2 linked regions of the Homo sapiens genome follow. The protein of the gene in region 2 binds, or shares a complex with, the protein of the main gene of each other region. Each region holds a gene or a part of one and is shown on either strand. Other genes may lie near its edges.

The links.
Region 1: the proteins of COL1A1 (region 2) and FN1 are in contact, whole or in part, in a crystal structure (PDB 3GXE), measured with the Homo sapiens proteins. Residues at the interface, in NP_000079.2 of Homo sapiens: Leu261, Pro262, Gly263, Met264, Lys265, Gly266, His267, Arg268; in NP_997647.2 of Homo sapiens: Asp516, Gln517, Lys533, His535, Glu537, His539, Leu541, Gly549, Arg550, Gly551, Arg552, Trp553, Lys554, Cys555, Pro557, Gln560, Phe569.

What each region holds. Positions count from the first base shown.
Region 1 is NC_000002.12:215,360,273-215,363,292, reverse strand, and holds the end of FN1 (fibronectin isoform 1 precursor), read left to right. Parts: exon of another isoform or gene 1-640; coding exon of another isoform or gene 641-647; intron 648-1,213; coding exon 1,214-1,324; intron 1,325-1,666; coding exon 1,667-1,738; 3' UTR 1,739-2,428; downstream 2,429-3,020. Other genes in the region: bifunctional purine biosynthesis protein ATIC, read right to left, coding at 641-647. UniProt on the Homo sapiens protein: Fibronectins bind cell surfaces and various compounds including collagen, fibrin, heparin, DNA, and actin. Fibronectins are involved in cell adhesion, cell motility, opsonization, wound healing, and maintenance of cell shape.
Region 2 is NC_000017.11:50,200,263-50,204,178, forward strand, and holds the start of COL1A1 (collagen alpha-1(I) chain preproprotein), read right to left. Parts: upstream 1,370-3,916; 5' UTR 1,252-1,369; coding exon 1,149-1,251; intron 1-1,148. UniProt on the Homo sapiens protein: Type I collagen is a member of group I collagen (fibrillar forming collagen).

The sequences.
Region 1 (3,020 bases), on a different chromosome or scaffold from region 2:
CTGGGAAGTTGATTTTGGTCTCACTTCAGCATCTTCTCATTATTTATGCACATGAAACCTTTCATGTGCGACACTTATTCTATTCTCAAGTGCTAAATGAAACATTTAAGACAGGAGTGGAAACTGTTCACTTTCTCATATGAAAGCAAGATTCAGTGATTCTGTAAGGAGGTAGTCACTGGTATTGTGTTAGGTATTAAGGGGCATATGTGCTTAAACAGAGAAATATGTCTAAAATATTTAAATTCTAATATAAAAAAGAAAGTGACTGTATTATTTAGGGCTGCATTTTAGTTGTAAGAAAAAAGTCCAACTCAAGCAAAAATGGCCCACACAATGGAACAGTCCCAGGACCCACCGGCTTCAGGGGCTGCTCCAGCAATGGCGCCCGGACTCCCTCTTGCTCCGCGTGCCTTCCCATGCACTGGCTTCGTGCTTCAGCGGGGTCTCTGCTGATGGTGCCATTGATGACTGACCTCCATGAGCTTGCTTTACCCCCTGCCAGCTTAAGAACAGTAGTGAAAGAGAACATGTGTGTCCTCCCATTTCCAGTAAAAACTTCAGGCAGGAGCCTCACTGGCTCAGCTTGGTCCCGTTTCCATCTCCCATGCCATCTCCGGCCAGGTGACAGGCTACCATGTCACTGCCTAGGGAAGTTTAGGAAGAGAGTGGCAAAGTGGTGCATTAGAAAGAACATGGCCAGGTCACCCCACCTCCTGGGCGGCAGGCCCAACTCCACCAGTGGTCCACTGTGTGACTTCCCTGCTCCCTCTAAGCAAGTCACTCCTCTCCTCTGGGTCTCTGTTTCCTTACCTATAAAATGAGAACGTTTCTTCATGTGATCTCAAGTCCCTTTTAAAATCGCTAGGATTCTTTGAAAACCTTTTCTATCATCTAGTGCAGAGAACTTGTTGAGGAAGTTGGGATTGGAATGAGCCTCAGCAGATGGGCAAGGTTTGAATAGGAAGAGAAGAGACATTTCAGGAGAAAGAAACAACATAGAGAGACAGATGTAGGTATAAGATATGGTAATAAGCCAAAATGTATTAAGAGTTATAAATGCATGAAATCATCATCAAAGCTTGCTTAGTGATTAACTGCTTATATTTTGCCAGTGCATATGATGTGACATTTTTCTTTAACTCAAACACTAAATTACGATGTCCTCAGGTTATCATAAACCCCATTTGACTTCATGCCTCTACTCTCTCAGGGCTGGCGCTGTGACAACTGCCGCAGACCTGGGGGTGAACCCAGTCCCGAAGGCACTACTGGCCAGTCCTACAACCAGTATTCTCAGAGATACCATCAGAGAACAAACACTGTAAGTGCATTAGCAGCACAAGTGTGTTCCCTCATACTAGACAGTCTCTTTCTACAGGTATCTTTCTTCAGAATGAACCAAGTGTTTTAATTAATTAAAAAAAAAAACAACTCATAAATGACTTAAGTGAAACACTGTATTCCATAATATAGTTTAAGTTATAATTTATGTAACTCTTGAACATCTCCTATTGCCCAGTATGCTGCTAGGTTCTTGAAACTAGGAAGAAATATTATCCTATCTATAAGCAGCTGTCATGAGTCCCCACCTCCCCGCATTTTTTTTTCTGTACACTTTACAGTATTTGCCACTAATTTTTTTTTCCTTCTTCCTTTTTAACAGAATGTTAATTGCCCAATTGAGTGCTTCATGCCTTTAGATGTACAGGCTGACAGAGAAGATTCCCGAGAGTAAATCATCTTTCCAATCCAGAGGAACAAGCATGTCTCTCTGCCAAGATCCATCTAAACTGGAGTGATGTTAGCAGACCCAGCTTAGAGTTCTTCTTTCTTTCTTAAGCCCTTTGCTCTGGAGGAAGTTCTCCAGCTTCAGCTCAACTCACAGCTTCTCCAAGCATCACCCTGGGAGTTTCCTGAGGGTTTTCTCATAAATGAGGGCTGCACATTGCCTGTTCTGCTTCGAAGTATTCAATACCGCTCAGTATTTTAAATGAAGTGATTCTAAGATTTGGTTTGGGATCAATAGGAAAGCATATGCAGCCAACCAAGATGCAAATGTTTTGAAATGATATGACCAAAATTTTAAGTAGGAAAGTCACCCAAACACTTCTGCTTTCACTTAAGTGTCTGGCCCGCAATACTGTAGGAACAAGCATGATCTTGTTACTGTGATATTTTAAATATCCACAGTACTCACTTTTTCCAAATGATCCTAGTAATTGCCTAGAAATATCTTTCTCTTACCTGTTATTTATCAATTTTTCCCAGTATTTTTATACGGAAAAAATTGTATTGAAAACACTTAGTATGCAGTTGATAAGAGGAATTTGGTATAATTATGGTGGGTGATTATTTTTTATACTGTATGTGCCAAAGCTTTACTACTGTGGAAAGACAACTGTTTTAATAAAAGATTTACATTCCACAACTTGAAGTTCATCTATTTGATATAAGACACCTTCGGGGGAAATAATTCCTGTGAATATTCTTTTTCAATTCAGCAAACATTTGAAAATCTATGATGTGCAAGTCTAATTGTTGATTTCAGTACAAGATTTTCTAAATCAGTTGCTACAAAAACTGATTGGTTTTTGTCACTTCATCTCTTCACTAATGGAGATAGCTTTACACTTTCTGCTTTAATAGATTTAAGTGGACCCCAATATTTATTAAAATTGCTAGTTTACCGTTCAGAAGTATAATAGAAATAATCTTTAGTTGCTCTTTTCTAACCATTGTAATTCTTCCCTTCTTCCCTCCACCTTTCCTTCATTGAATAAACCTCTGTTCAAAGAGATTGCCTGCAAGGGAAATAAAAATGACTAAGATATTAAAAGTATTTGAATAGTATAATATGGAGGAGTTTTATCTTAGGGAAACCCCATGGTATGATAACCCCCATCTAACATGTCTTACTTTGGGTCAGCTGACACTTTTGGCATGGCTTGATAAACTCCCAGCTAAACAGTTTGTTTACTCCTGATCTGTAAAGGTCATTTCTTTTTCAATTTAACATT
Region 2 (3,916 bases):
GGGAGGGCGGGGGGAGAATAGGAGGGGCCCCATCGGGAGGGCAGGCTCGTGGGGAGTGGCTTGCGTGGTAGAGACAGGAGGAGGGCGAGGGAGGAGAGAAGGGAGGTCCAGCCCTCATCCCGCCCCCATTCCCTGGGCAGGTGGGGTGGCGGGGGCGGGGCTAGGAGAATGGGAGCGGCTGATTGGAAGGGAGGCCCCCCCAAGACTTGAAATGTACCTCAAAATTAGGAGACACCCTAACCTCCAGCACCTAGACATCTTAAAAGCCCGCTCTCGGGGCCATCCCCAGTCCCCCAAAGCCAGCCAATGCCTCCAGGTCACTTTTAGCCAAAGAACCAAAAAGTCCGCAAATAGTCCAGAAGTTAGCTAACCACTCCCACCGCGCTAGCGGCTCCCCAGACGGCCACTAGGTGTCGGGCAACGCTAAGCAATGGGGCCGGGGCGGGGCCGACCTCACCGGCCCGACTACCTCTTTAAGAGGCTTGGGCTGCCCCATCCCTGGCTTTACTTTCCAGATCTAGAGGTGGGGGTCCGCACCCAGCAATAACCCGGGTCTTCCCGCTCCGGCTCCTGCCCCAGTAAGCGTTGGACCGGGAGACGCAGTGCTCAGCATCGGTCAGCAGGGGGCGCAAGGACCCCGCCCCGCCGAGTCCGCGCCAAAGTTTCTCATCCTCCACCCGCCCACGCTCCGCACCCCCTCCGCGGCTGCCCAGCACCCCCACGGCCCCAGCAACACTCTAGCCCGCAGAGAGGGCAATCTTTCCTTATGAATCATCCCACGGCCTTCCTGATTGCTTCTACATCTTGGGCTTCAAATGCCCCGCTCGGCGCCCCCATCCCATCTTCGACGTGCTTTCCTCACTCTGCACCCAGATCCCCACTTCCCCGGTTGCGCGCTCGGGATTCTCTCTTGCACCAACTCACGCCGCGCTCCACCCTCACCTCCCGCTCCCGGGGCGCGTTCAACCCCAACCTCGCCCCAGGGTGAGCTCCCTCCTGTCTCAGGGCGCCGAGGAAGAGCCCTCATCATCTCCCTTCCATTCCCGAGTCTCCGGATCATCCACGTCTCGTTTTAAGCCGCGGCCCCCGGGACCAAGCGCAAGGCGCGATATAGAGTATCCTTGCACTCCCAAAAGTTTGGGACTTACTGTCTTCGTCTTGGCCCTCGACTTGGCCTTCCTCTTGGCCGTGCGTCAGGAGGGCGGTGGCCGCTAAGAGGAGCAGGAGCCGGAGGTCCACAAAGCTGAACATGTCTAGACCCTAGACATGTAGACTCTTTGTGGCTGGGGAGGGGGTTAGCGTCCGCTCATGCGTGGCCTCACACTCCGCGTGCCTCCTGCTCCGACCCCGAGGAGAAACTCCCGTCTGCTCCGACGACTGGCCCGGGCCCCTTTTATACTGTCCTGATGGAGAGCAGGGAGGAACCCTGCCCCTCGGAGAGGGGGAGCCGGCCGCCCGTGCCCCAGCCAATCAGAGCTGCCTGGCCCGGCCCCCAATTTGGGAGTTGGAATGGAGAGGGGGAGGAGGAGGGAAGGGAGTCCACCCCACATCTCCCCTCTTCGCAGCTCTGCCTCCCCAGCCCCCCAGCCCAGCCTGGGCCAGAGGTGCTGTGGTAGGGGTGCAGCTGGGTCCTCAGAATGGCGTGGGCTAACCAGTGGGTAGGGGTGCCCCTCTGCTCTCTTCCTGGGACCTCCAATCTAGAAGAAGTGGAACTGGGGAACTGGGGAGCTGGGTGGGGAGACTTCCAAAGGTGGAAGGGTTGGGGGTGTTGGGGAGGGGGTCCTCCTGGCTGTGCCCCAGTCACCCTCTGATATCCTGGCAAGAGCTAAGGGAGGGGCATAAAGAGGCATGCTGAGGACCTCTCCAAAACAGAGGAAGCTGGGAATTAAAAAGATGTGCCTGTTTGGGGGTGTCTTCTGGTGTGGCTAGGGGATGGAGCTTAGGAATATTTGGGGAACAATTTACAGATTCCTTTCTAGACATTAAGAATCAGATATCTGAGGGAGGGGTGCAGGCAAGGGAGTTTTAATTTTGAGGATGTCAATTCTTCTGCTGTGCTCCAGAACAGAATCAAATGCCTTCCTCCAAACCCTAGGCATGATTGAGAGATGGAGTGGGGAGGCTGAGGTGCAGGGTGAGAAACATGACTAGGTGGCCTCTGCAGAAGAAAGCTTTGGTGGTTGGGTGATGGAGCAGCCAAGGTAGGGGTGGGGGATTCTAGGGACACAGAGGTGGGGATTGGGGCTTGCAATCCCCTAAAAATTCATCCCCCAAACTCTTCCACCCCAGAGTTGGGAAGTATTTTTAGTGGGAGGCCTGTGATCATTGGTGACTTAGAGAAGAGTTTTGTTTGCCATGGCTGTGGCCAGGGGCTGCTTAGAGACCCTCCTTCCCAGCACAGTCAAACCAGAGAGAACCTGGGTGGAGGGAGGGCACTTAGCTAAAGGGGTGTCTTTCTGGGAGCTGCATAAAGCCCCTTCTCCAGTTGTACCTGGACTCAGTGTTGGGGATGTATGGGATATTTTGGGTGTCTGGGTGAAACTTTCCTTTGGGGGTGTGGGATGGGCTGCAGAGGATGATTGACTTTGTTTTAGGGGCTACTTCCCACTGCCTCATCTCTTTCTTGAAAATCCCGGTCATTGCTCTATGCCTTAGGAACCAGAGAGAATCATCTGTACACTCTGAAAGGGTCTGGGGACCCGAAGGACAGCAGGCTATATCTAAGGAAGATGGCTCTAGAACTCCACGTCCTTTCTTCCTCCATGTCCCATTCCCCCAACAAGGCTCTGCCTCAACCCCAATCTACCTCGTCCTGAGAAACTCTGTAGGGCTGAGAGAAGGCCTGGGGGTCTCCTTGCAGTGCCCTGTTCATTTCTCTCCCTCCTGTGCAGCTCCCCACCCCGGGTGCTCCAGAGCTGCAAACGTGGAAGCGGGGAGTCCCGCCTCCCCCAAACCATCCAAGATTCCATTGCCTCCCCCCGCCCCTCTCCACGCCCTCCCCCAGCTGGTTTTGTGCAACGAAGGCAAAGGGGAAAAAAAAGGAACAGAAGGGGAGGGAGCCACGTCGGCTGGCCGGCTGGCCGTGGGCAGCCAGGATGAGCGGTGCGGGTGGGGCAGCAGAGGGAGACTGCAGGGGCTATAATTAAAGGGAAAATATAGAGTTTCCAGAGAGGCAGGGCTGGAGACAGCAATGGAGGGATGGACCTTCATCAATTATCCCGACCATGTGGCAGCAACTTGTGGCCCAGGGTCTGCCCCCGCCTAGTGCCAGCGACTGCAGGGCAGGACTAGGGGGCTGAGGTGCTGAGATGGCAGTTCTTGAACCCACCAAAGTCCTGCCCCCTACTGTGGGTCAGTTCCAAGAGAACCCCTCCCTAATAGGCGACAGGGGTCCTGTTTTTGGAGGGAACAGACATTTAGAGTGGTGGTCTAGGGCAGGGTGCCGCAGGGCTTGGTAGTATGAGGGTTAGTGACCTGTCCACTTCCTTGCTTCTTGGGTTTTCGTAGTAAGAAGGGCTCCTGCCTGCAGCTCCCCGCCCCTCCCCATATGTTTCCCATCCAGGCTTTCCCACGCCCATCTTAAAGAAGAGTTGAAACCTCCAAGGTGTGAATTGGGGGTTGCTACATCATGGGCCTGGGGTTCTGAAGGATATTTGGGGATCCCTGGCTTTGGAGTTTTGTGTGCCTGGCGTGTGACAGCCACCACCCCAATGTCCAGTTCCAGGCCTTCCTCCCAGGGGCCGAGGCAGACAGTTTCCAAGCATCCTTTACACGTGGCATGGAGCTGAGGCTCAAGGCCTCCCCTGCCACTCTTCGACTTAAAACGCTTGGCGGGTGCCCAGGCTGAAGATGTGTCTTTAATTTCTGCAGTATGACAGTGAGAGGAAGAATGTGCTTGGGGTCTCCTCCCAGCCTG